3 linked regions of the Homo sapiens genome follow. The protein of the gene in region 1 purifies or fractionates together with the protein of each later gene. This does not show direct contact. Each region holds a gene or a part of one and is shown in the gene's direction. Other genes may lie near its edges.

The links.
Region 2: the proteins of HEATR6 (region 1) and VSIG1 purify together in Homo sapiens (co-immunoprecipitation; one large-scale study listed by IntAct). This does not show direct contact.
Region 3: the proteins of HEATR6 (region 1) and RPP30 fractionate together in Homo sapiens (co-fractionation; one large-scale study listed by BioGRID). This does not show direct contact.

Annotation. Positions count from the first base shown.
Region 1 is NC_000017.11:60,061,849-60,065,505, reverse strand, and holds part of HEATR6 (HEAT repeat-containing protein 6), read left to right. Parts: intron 1-3,657. UniProt on the Homo sapiens protein: Amplification-dependent oncogene.
Region 2 is NC_000023.11:108,076,065-108,079,841, forward strand, and holds the end of VSIG1 (V-set and immunoglobulin domain-containing protein 1 isoform 2 precursor), read left to right. Parts: intron 1-12; coding exon 13-154; intron 155-983; coding exon 984-1,317; 3' UTR 1,318-3,120; downstream 3,121-3,777.
Region 3 is NC_000010.11:90,892,386-90,896,042, forward strand, and holds part of RPP30 (ribonuclease P protein subunit p30), read left to right. Parts: intron 1-2,389; coding exon 2,390-2,506; intron 2,507-3,068; coding exon 3,069-3,098; intron 3,099-3,494; coding exon 3,495-3,532; intron 3,533-3,657. UniProt on the Homo sapiens protein: Component of ribonuclease P, a ribonucleoprotein complex that generates mature tRNA molecules by cleaving their 5'-ends. Also a component of the MRP ribonuclease complex, which cleaves pre-rRNA sequences.

The DNA of each region.
Region 1 (3,657 bases):
CAATAATGAACATTAAAAAGTCATGCTGAATGGCATCTGGGTGTCCTCAGGTAACCAGCTACCCACAAAGAGGAGTTTTAATTAGGCCAACAGCATATTGTTCCTTTTCTGTTTTTAAGATTATTCCTTAAGGGGTCAGGGGTGGTAACCCACAATACGTTGGAATTCCATATGAGTCATCTCCTTGAGTAACTTACTATATAAGAAAATTTCTGGATGACCCATCAGAAGCTTTTACAAGGTAAAGAAAAATAAATTAGCCTCAATTTTATATACACGCAAAAAAATGACTTGTGGGGTATTTCAAATACTCCTTATCCTAGGAAATTAAACTGGCAGAAATTTTACAAATTAACTAAATCAATAGTGAATGAGAACCTAGGAGAAAAATGGAAAAATGAGTGGTGGCAAATAAATCAGTAATGAAGCCATTAGAGTAATTGAAATAAAAGCTACTAAAAATATTGAAAATATATATTTGAAGACCCTCCAGCTAGGGGAGCTGCCAGCAGTGGCCAACGAGATGGTGCTGTGGAGCAAGAAGCAGCCCAGCTTTATCACCTTTATCACAGCTGCCCAGCCAAGGGGATGTGGGACACGGGGGTTTAGAACAGGAATACAAAAAGGTTATGAGGTCATAGCTGATGAAAATGAATTGGAATAATTTTCATGATGTTTATATCTTCATATATTTTTAAATGTTTACATTTCACTTAAAGTGCCATGAGAAATTTCACCTATTGCAAAGTGGTCTTATCCATCTCCTTGATTTAGGTACCTTTTAGACTTGTTCTTGCTGTTTAACTTTGGTGAATGCAAGAGATGTGCTGAGGAAAAAAGATACAGAACTTCCTTCTGGAGATGTTGTAGATCCAGTACAAAAAGCCACAAGAAAATCCTAGAGAAAAAAAAAAAAAAGTCATCCTACTTAAAGTGGATTTTAAAAGATGAAAGAAATTAAATTAGTTCAGTGTAATGGCAAGTGAAATGATCGTACTTAAGAGATTCTTTTAATCAAGTGTTAGCTTGGAAGGGTTTAAATAAGTGTGGTAATTATTGTTTACAACAGAGCTTGGAGCATACCTTTGCAGTCTGTCCATAGTGTGATTAACTGTGCACCAAGACATATGCTAGAAAAAAGTGTTGTGGTAGGTGATGTCATGGGACAGGCTTTTGTTTGTTTGTTTGTTTGTTTGTTTGAGACAGAGTTTTGCTCTTGTTGCCCAGGCTGGAGTGCAATGGTGAGATCTCAGCTTACTGCAACCTCTGCCTCCCGGGTTCAAGCAATTCTGTCTCAGCCTCCCGAGGAGCTGGGACTACAGGCATGCACCACCATGCCTGGCTAATTTTGTATTTTTGGTAAAGATGGGATTTCTCCATGTTGGTCAGGCTGGTCTGGAATTCCTGACCCCAGGTGATGTGCCTGCCTTGGCCTCCCAAAGTGCTGGGATTATAGACTTGAGCCACCGCACCCGGCCCAGTGGGACAGGCTTTTAAAATAAAGACTTCTAGAAAGTTATGTGCATTAAAATTAAAAATAACAGATCATGTAATTAGAATGGAACAGCATTCTGGATTGACCAGGTTAAAAGAGCTGCCATGACTCCAGGCCAAGTGGTCATCTCAGGTGCTCCTTGTGCATATAGAGTTAGATGGCTGGAGTTCCTCTTAGCCAGGATTAAATAAGACAACTGTAGTTTATCTTGTCATTGAAGTGCTTAGTGATTAGTTTTGAGTTTATGGCAGGTCTGATATGACCCATGGCATACTCAGCTGGAAGCACAATTTTAACTGGTGTACTAAGAAATTTTCTAAAGACAAATGGACAGAAGGAAAGGTGATTAGACTCTTCCAGTCAGAATGCCAACAATAAACAGAGGCTACTTTTAGGAAATTGAAACATAATATGCTAGAATGGTTAATTGGGGAGAAGAAAACTTAGAAATGTCCATTCGGATTTGGCAGTGCTGTGGTACTTGGGAAATGATCACATTTCCATGTTGGAAATGTGCTTCATAGAGCACATCTTATACACTTCCAAAAGGGACAGAACAAATTATCAATAAAAATAACAAGACTAATTTAAGAATTTCTTGGATATGATTTCCTTAGGTGTTATAAACGCATATTATGGAGAATATCATCAAGACTTGTCTTAAGAAACAAACTACAGGGCAAACCTTTGTCTTGGTACCTTGAGAATTATCCTGATTTACAAATTTCATGATGATGATTTATTGCTGTTTCAGATAACTATAAAAAGTGAAAACAAATCGAAATCTAGATAATAGTGGTATAACTAGAAAAGAGAATGAAAAGGTTGGAATTGTTAACTGTTATGGAATGGTAGATTTTCTCTCATATGGCCAGCCAAGAACAGGCAATCTTTGCTTAGTGTATTAGCAAAGAACAGGCAGTCTTTAATTAGTGTATCTGTATTGACGCTTCTGATAAAGACATACCCGAGACTGGGAAGAAAAAGAGGTTTAATTGGACTTACAGCTCCACATGGCTGGGGAGGCTTCAGAATCATGGCAGGAGGCAAAAGGCACTTCTTTACATGGTGGCAGCAAGAGAAAATGAGGAAGAAGCAAAAGCAGAAACCCCTGATAAACCCATCAGATCTCGTGAGACTATCACGAGAATAGCAGGGGGAAGACCAGCCCCCATGATTCAGTTACCTCTCACAAGTCCCTCCCACAACACGTGAGAATGCTGGGAGATATAATTCAAGTTGAGATTTGGGTGGGGACACAGCTAAACCATATCACTTAGATACCTCCCAACCCAGAGTCCCTGACACAATGTTGAAATGCTGTTACGTAAAAGACAACTGACTTTGGAAGTGAGATCCAATAAAATAACATGTGAACAGTCATGTGCCCTGCATGGAAACTTCAATGTACCTACTCCCAGCAGGGACTTCTTTGTCACCCTTCCAGAAATATTCTGAGACCAAACACACATAAAGAGGAAAAAAATTAGGATTGACTAGGCTACCTCAGCAAACATTTGTGCTACGTTCTTAAGTAGCAAAAAAGGAAAAGTACTTTTCTGTTTTATTAGCTTTAGACAAGTCTTCATGTCCAAGGAGGTGAAACTATACACTAGTAAAACCAAGCACACTGACTTCTGTAAGACTGAAAAGCCTTTCATTCATCATTTTAAATATTCAGACAATGAAAACTTAACAAAATGAGCTCTCTGAAGAGCTACACCTGTTATGATTTACTTGCACGTTAGTAATTTCTGCTGAAAGTGCTGATTAGGACTGGTAAACCAGATATTAAATATTGATATAAGAGCAAAAGAAGCAAAACTTGTACCAGATTCAGTATCTTAAGTAACAATTATAACAACAAAGATATGTTAAACAGAGTTTAAAGGAAATTAACTCAGAACTGTGAGAAGTACAATTTGATATAGTATCAAATTTCTATATAGATTTTGTAACTTAGTGGAAAAAAATAACCAATTTCAATGACATTTGTTTTCATCTGTGATAGTCATGATTTTCCCCTTAAGATGCCAAAATTGTGCTAAAATTTTTGACTTTTGGAACATTAGTTCATTTCTTTCCATTCGATTTTTAATTTCATTCAGTTTGTGAGCTGTTGGAATTGTGATTTTTAATTGTCTTCTAAAGAAATGAAGGTT
Region 2 (3,777 bases), on another chromosome or scaffold:
TGTATCCTTCAGATCCAGAAGTTGGAATCATTGTTGGGGCCTTGATTGGTAGCCTGGTAGGTGCCGCCATCATCATCTCTGTTGTGTGCTTCGCAAGGAATAAGGCAAAAGCAAAGGCAAAAGAAAGAAATTCTAAGACCATCGCGGAACTTGAGTAAGCCTTCATTTTGTTGTCTTTACTTGAATACAAACATTTCTCAGGCATGTCTTTTTCAGTCATCAATTCCTAAGCACTCCTTTTAGTATAAGATATCAGAGGTATCTTTCTGTTTACTCTCATTGAATTTAAAAAAGAATGATGATGGCTGCTATTTATTGAGTGCTGTGTGCCAGGCTCTGTTCTAAGCACTTTATGTACATCAACTCATTTAGCTATCACAACAGTTTTAGGTCCAAGAAAACATTTTCATATATAATACTAACATACTTGTCTTAATACCAACATAGTCATGAAATATAATTTTAAATTTTTTTATGGAACAAGAGACCCACAAGGACAGTGCCCAGGGAACACAGAAGTTAGAATGTGGCCCAGCCCACAGCTCATGCTCTTAATCACTCTATTTCTTTCCTAGTGTGTATCTCACTCATTCATTTTTTTTCATCTCCTTGCTTCTACAACTATCTATTGGGTATCAACCAGGTGCCAAGTATTGTACTAGATGGAGTGAGAAATAGCGATACATCAGAGCTATGAATTTGGACCTTAAAGACCTTATTAGATTCTTAGACTCTTTCATTCTGACATTATTTTCCCACCTTGAAACACTGCTCTTTCTTAAACTTTCATGATATTGTTGAGACCTAACCTTTCTGAATCCAAAATGACCTATGGCCTGACAATGAGTCAGAATATCAGAAATAACAGATTTCCTGAAGTCTGGGACCTATGGTCATTGAAGCTACAGAACATATGGTTTCACATGAAATTTCAAAGTTAGCATCTCCCTAACTTGTTCTTTTCTGGGCCTTCTTTCTTGCAGGCCAATGACAAAGATAAACCCAAGGGGAGAAAGCGAAGCAATGCCAAGAGAAGACGCTACCCAACTAGAAGTAACTCTACCATCTTCCATTCATGAGACTGGCCCTGATACCATCCAAGAACCAGACTATGAGCCAAAGCCTACTCAGGAGCCTGCCCCAGAGCCTGCCCCAGGATCAGAGCCTATGGCAGTGCCTGACCTTGACATCGAGCTGGAGCTGGAGCCAGAAACGCAGTCGGAATTGGAGCCAGAGCCAGAGCCAGAGCCAGAGTCAGAGCCTGGGGTTGTAGTTGAGCCCTTAAGTGAAGATGAAAAGGGAGTGGTTAAGGCATAGGCTGGTGGCCTAAGTACAGCATTAATCATTAAGGAACCCATTACTGCCATTTGGAATTCAAATAACCTAACCAACCTCCACCTCCTCCTTCCATTTTGACCAACCTTCTTCTAACAAGGTGCTCATTCCTACTATGAATCCAGAATAAACACGCCAAGATAACAGCTAAATCAGCAAGGGTTCCTGTATTACCAATATAGAATACTAACAATTTTACTAACACGTAAGCATAACAAATGACAGGGCAAGTGATTTCTAACTTAGTTGAGTTTTGCAACAGTACCTGTGTTGTTATTTCAGAAAATATTATTTCTCTCTTTTTAACTACTCTTTTTTTTTATTTTAGACAGAGTCTTGCTCCGTCGCGCAGGCTGTGATCGTAGTGGTGCGATCTCGGCTCACTGCAACCTCCGCTCCCTGGGTTCAAGCGATTCTCCTGCCTGAGCCTCCTGAGTAGCTGGGACTACAGGCACGTGCCACCACGCCCGGCTAATTTTTTGTATTTTTAGTAGAGATGGGGTTTCACGTTGTTAGCCAGGATGGTCTCCATCTCCTGACCTCATGATCCGCCCACCTTGGCCTCCCAAAATGCTGGGATTACAGGCATGAGCCACTGCGCCCGGCCTCTTTTTAGCTACTCTTATGTTCCACATGCACATATGACAAGGTGGCATTAATTAGATTCAATATTATTTCTAGGAATAGTTCCTCATTCATTTTTATATTGACCACTAAGAAAATAATTCATCAGCATTATCTCATAGATTGGAAAATTTTCTCCAAATACAATAGAGGAGAATATGTAAAGGGTATACATTAATTGGTACGTAGCATTTAAAATCAGGTCTTATAATTAATGCTTCATTCCTCATATTAGATTTCCCAAGAAATCACCCTGGTATCCAATATCTGAGCATGGCAAATTTAAAAAATAACACAATTTCTTGCCTGTAACCCTAGCACTTTGGGAGGCCGAGGCAGGTGGATCACCTGAGGTCAGGAGTTCGAGACCAGCCTGGCCAACATGGCGAAACCCCTTCTCTACTAAAAATACAAAAATTAGCTGGGCGTGGTAGTGCATGCCTGTAATCCCAGCTACTTGGGAGGCTGAGGCAGGAGAATCGCTTGAACCCAGGAGGTGGAGGTTGCAGTGAGCCGAGATTGTGCCACTGCACTCCAACCTGGGTGACAGAGTGAGATTCCATCTGAAAAACAAAAACAAAAACAGAAAACAAACAAACAAAAAACAAAAAATCCCCACAACTTTGTCAAATAATGTACAGGCAAACACTTTCAAATATAATTTCCTTCAGTGAATACAAAATGTTGATATCATAGGTGATGTACAATTTAGTTTTGAATGAGTTATTATGTTATCACTGTGTCTGATGTTATCTACTTTGAAAGGCAGTCCAGAAAAGTGTTCTAAGTGAACTCTTAAGATCTATTTTAGATAATTTCAACTAATTAAATAACCTGTTTTACTGCCTGTACATTCCACATTAATAAAGCGATACCAATCTTATATGAATGCTAATATTACTAAAATGCACTGATATCACTTCTTCTTCCCCTGTTGAAAAGCTTTCTCATGATCATATTTCACCCACATCTCACCTTGAAGAAACTTACAGGTAGACTTACCTTTTCACTTGTGGAATTAATCATATTTAAATCTTACTTTAAGGCTCAATAAATAATACTCATAATGTCTCATTTTAGTGACTCCTAAGGCTAGTCCTTTTATAAACAACTTTTTCTGACATAGCATTTATGTATAATAAACCAGACATTTAAAGTGTACAATTTGATGAGTTTTGACAGAGCACATACCCATGAAACCACCACACCCATCTAGAGAGAAAACATTTCCATCAGCCCAAAATGTTTCTTCATGCCCCTTTGTGCGATCCCACCATTGCCCTGGACCTAGGAAATCACTCATTGTTTTCCATCACTAGAGGTTAACTTTGCCTTTTCTTGGCCCTCATACATATGGGATGATACAGTATGTACTTTTTGTGTCTCACTTCCTTCTAAGGTGAATCCTTTTTAAACAAAGTAGTGAGTTTCTCATTTATCACTTTCAGATTTTCATGTAAAATATTTTCTTAAACTGCAAACTCCTTTCTATATAAATCATAACCATACACAGATTGAGGTAGAGTCTCTGTAGGTTTTAAGGAGAGTTAAAATGGAAATTAACATTACACTTATCTAGAGCCATGGAGAGAAGAGATAGCAAGCGTTTATTTCTGCATTTTCTTCGATGCGTCCATTTTCAGAAAATGTCAGGGATTTCTGATGCATTTATAATTTCATTCATACTAAATATGATAGTATGGTATATGGTGTCTGATGGACACAAGAAGCAAAATAATGAAGGTCTTAAGAATGACCTAATATTTAGAGATTAAAAAGTAAACAACAGTGTAAACATCTCAATTACCAGAATGCCCA
Region 3 (3,657 bases), on another chromosome or scaffold:
TTCAAGAATTCCTATAGCAGTTTTAAAGTGAACTTGATTAATGTACCAAGATGAAAATCAGAACTTTTTCCTTAAAAAATAATTATGCTGATAATATCCTTTTTTTCTCCCCTCCCCCCGCAAAAGTTGTTTTTATTTTGATTTGGTACCCACAAGGGTCTAGAAATTTAGATTCAGTCAATTAGGAATATTTCGAGATCTAAGCATCCAACTCTATATATCATTCACCTCTTTCATTTATTTCCCCTCTTCATCATCCTGTTGCCTTGTATTATCGTTCCACAACTAGAAGGATAAGGAAAAGAAATACAGGTCAGCCTCTTCAGCTAATTAGTAGTTTTGGTAAAATATATAGCCAAGGAGATGGCTGATAATATGGCTAAAAGGGATGTTTTTACTTATCTGTGGTTTTTGGTTAGCCAGGTGCACCGAGGTTCCTTTGATGATGGATCATCTATAATGAACAACGTTATCACAGGACATCTTCTCCATAAGCTGCTATTTATTCACTCAAAATATAAATATATTATACACCTTTTATGTAAAAGGCAGTCTAGCTCTCAAGAAGTGTGCAAGCTTGGCAGAGCCAATGAGATACACGTTCAACTAGGACAGAAATACTATCTTAACAAATGTCATTCCCAGAAATAATCAACACAGGTGAAAGAATTAGAGATGGGGAAAAGTCAAAAAATGAGAGAGGGAAAGGTTGCAGTGTGGAAAATAGCATTTAAATTCTAACCAAACTAGAATCAGACATATAGGAAAATCTAAAATAAAATCTGGGAGCCTTGAAGCCGGAGGAAGAATTAAGGAAATCTGTGTTCGGGAGGGAAAAGCAGAAGGGGCCTTCAAGTACAACTGAATTAAATCAAGATGGACTGCCAGTTCTAGAAAAAGACAAGTTTCTCCATTCCCCGTAAATGCTCAGGAGTAAACCCCAGTAGTCACAGCTGGGCCAGTCCCAACTTATACTCTGGGCAATCGAAACTCATTTGCCAAGCAGAGACTTGGACCATACTGCCTAGAACATGCCTACCATTCTTTCTTTATTCTTTTGAAAGAGTACTGCCACTCAAGTGACTTTTGCAATTGAGAGTCTGATTATCATCTCTATGCTGAAAATCCTTCAGATGTTTTCTCCATTAGGAATAATCCTCATCACCAGCTCTAAAGGCCTGCACAGTTGGCCCTTCCCATCCTCTTTAGCCTGTCTTCCTCATTATTTTTCTCCAGCATTTGACCTTCCCTACGTGCTGCCATGCTGCAACCTTGAAGACTTTTGCATGCTCTGACCTCCCTCTGAAAGTGCACCTTCCTCTACTATTTAACTGCTTAATTTCTTCCTCAACCCTAAACTTCTCCTTGATAGCACTTAACACAGTTGAAGTTTTGTATTTTTGTGTGGTTATTGATCATCTCCCCCACTAAAATGTAAGCTTTTAGAAGGGAGAAACCATCTCAGCTTTTGCACGTAGTGGGCTTAAAACATCTTTTGTGAATGGATGCAGACATTTAGGTGCTCATTAGGAAAGCTGAACAGTATGGTGGTTAATTTCAATATCATTTCCACTCATCTACTTACCTGTGGATCCCTCTGTAGTAAGAGTACATTAAATAAAGAAGTTTCTGTTTCTCATGAAAAAAGCCAAGCTTGTATGGTGAGCTGGGCAAAATCTTCAAGGGCACTTCCATCTTTTTTGCTGTGCGGCTATAAGCCCAGTGAAAAATCAGGGGCTTTATTACTAAAGAAAAAGGAGAGGACAGATATCTGGGCAATTTGCAGGCTTTGCAGTAATGCTTTATAAAGGTATTGTAGTAAGGATTAAATATTATATATAAGACTCTCTTAGCATATAGTCAGCACTCAATTAACTATGGCTGTTATTCTCTCTTCAACATATAGAGAATAAATTACTTACCTGAAAGACCTTCCTGCCCTTGGTTCTTTGGGCTTTTTTCAGCTCTTCATTTCTTTGTCTCTTTGTGCATTCATAGGTCAGATTACTTGGTTTACTATGTTTGTATACAGTTTACTGTAAATGTAGGGAGTACATTTCTGTTTTCCTTTTGATAGTTCATGGAGTAGTAGCCCCTCTCTCACGCCATTGGGACTTTGTTCTTCTTAGCCTCTTCATAATTCCTGTTTATGTAAAGTCAGCTTCCCCACAGCCAAGTTAAACTCTCTTAATCAAGTAGAGCCACGGATTTATTTTCTTCTCCTTGTGGGTGGTGCCATTTGAGTGTTGATCTGTCTTTCATAAAGCTGTACCTTGACATGTAAGGGGTCAGTAGTAGGGAGTGAGGAGGGATGTGAAGAGAGAATCAGTGAAAATGAAGTAGGCCAGTGCATGCTTATCTCTGACAGTTCTCTTTATTTCCTGTGAAGGCGATTGACCGAGGCCTGGCTTTTGAACTTGTCTATAGCCCTGCTATCAAAGACTCCACAATGAGAAGGTATACAATTTCCAGTGCCCTCAATTTGATGCAAATCTGCAAAGGAAAGGTATGGTTCTATAATTTTAGGATGTTTTTCGCATCTGGCAGTTTATTATTAGTAGTACACTGGAATTGTCAAACTGACTCCTTTTCCTTAAAGCAGAATGTTCTCATAGCATAGGAACAAATTCTGCCATTTCAGTGAGCTCTGCAAATTTTAAGGGAAAGAAAAATACCAAGGGAAGAATAATGTAAGGGAGAAAAAGATGTGTTGGAAGCCATATCTTTTGATAAAAATTTGCAATTTACATACTGTGAAAGAAAAGTCTAGAATAACAATGGTCCTCACTGAGTTGAATTAAGATATGTGACCTTTTCATCTTGTTTTTTAAACTTAATTCACCTTTACTAAGATCTGTTAGGAAAACATATTTTGTTTTTTATTACAGATTGCCTTTAGTTTGACATGAAGTCTTTTCATTTTTTTCACCTTAATTATTTACCTTATCTTTAAAAGAAGTTGGTATTTGAGCCTTAAATGTTAAAATATGATTACTGGCTATTTATATTATGAAACTCCTTTTTTTACATTTATCTAAGATTAATATTAGTCACTTTCTATTTTGTAGAATGTAATTATATCTAGTGCTGCAGAAAGGGTAAGTCTAGCATGAAGTACTTTGTTTTCATCTTTCAGGTTATAAAACTTTTCAGTTTCTAGGGGATAAATTAAAATAGTAAATGAATATTTGTTGCATTTTTTTCTATTTTAACTGCATTTGCTCATTGTAATTGCTAAATAGTAAAATTTATCCCCACTTTCTTTAGGCTTCAACTTTTGTTTATATAATCAGTTTTTCTTTTATACTGTTACAAAATGCCTTTCAAGCTTCTCTTATATTTTCAAAAGCTATGAAACCCATCAAAATTATAAGGACTTAAATTTATGTAATTTTTTTATTTTTGGATACTTAAATTTTCTATTAATTTGCTATAAGTCATTGAAATGTTATAAATAATTTTCTCATATCTACTCTTTGTTCATTTTATTTCAGCCTTTAGAAATAAGAGGGCCATATGACGTGGCAAATCTGTATCCTTTTCTGAGTAAAAAGTTGTTGACATTGTCTTTCAGGAAATTTTGAATTTGAAGTCGTATTATAGTTGAACATGTATTTTTCTCAACCTTTTACTGTAAGTTTACCAATTAATAACTTC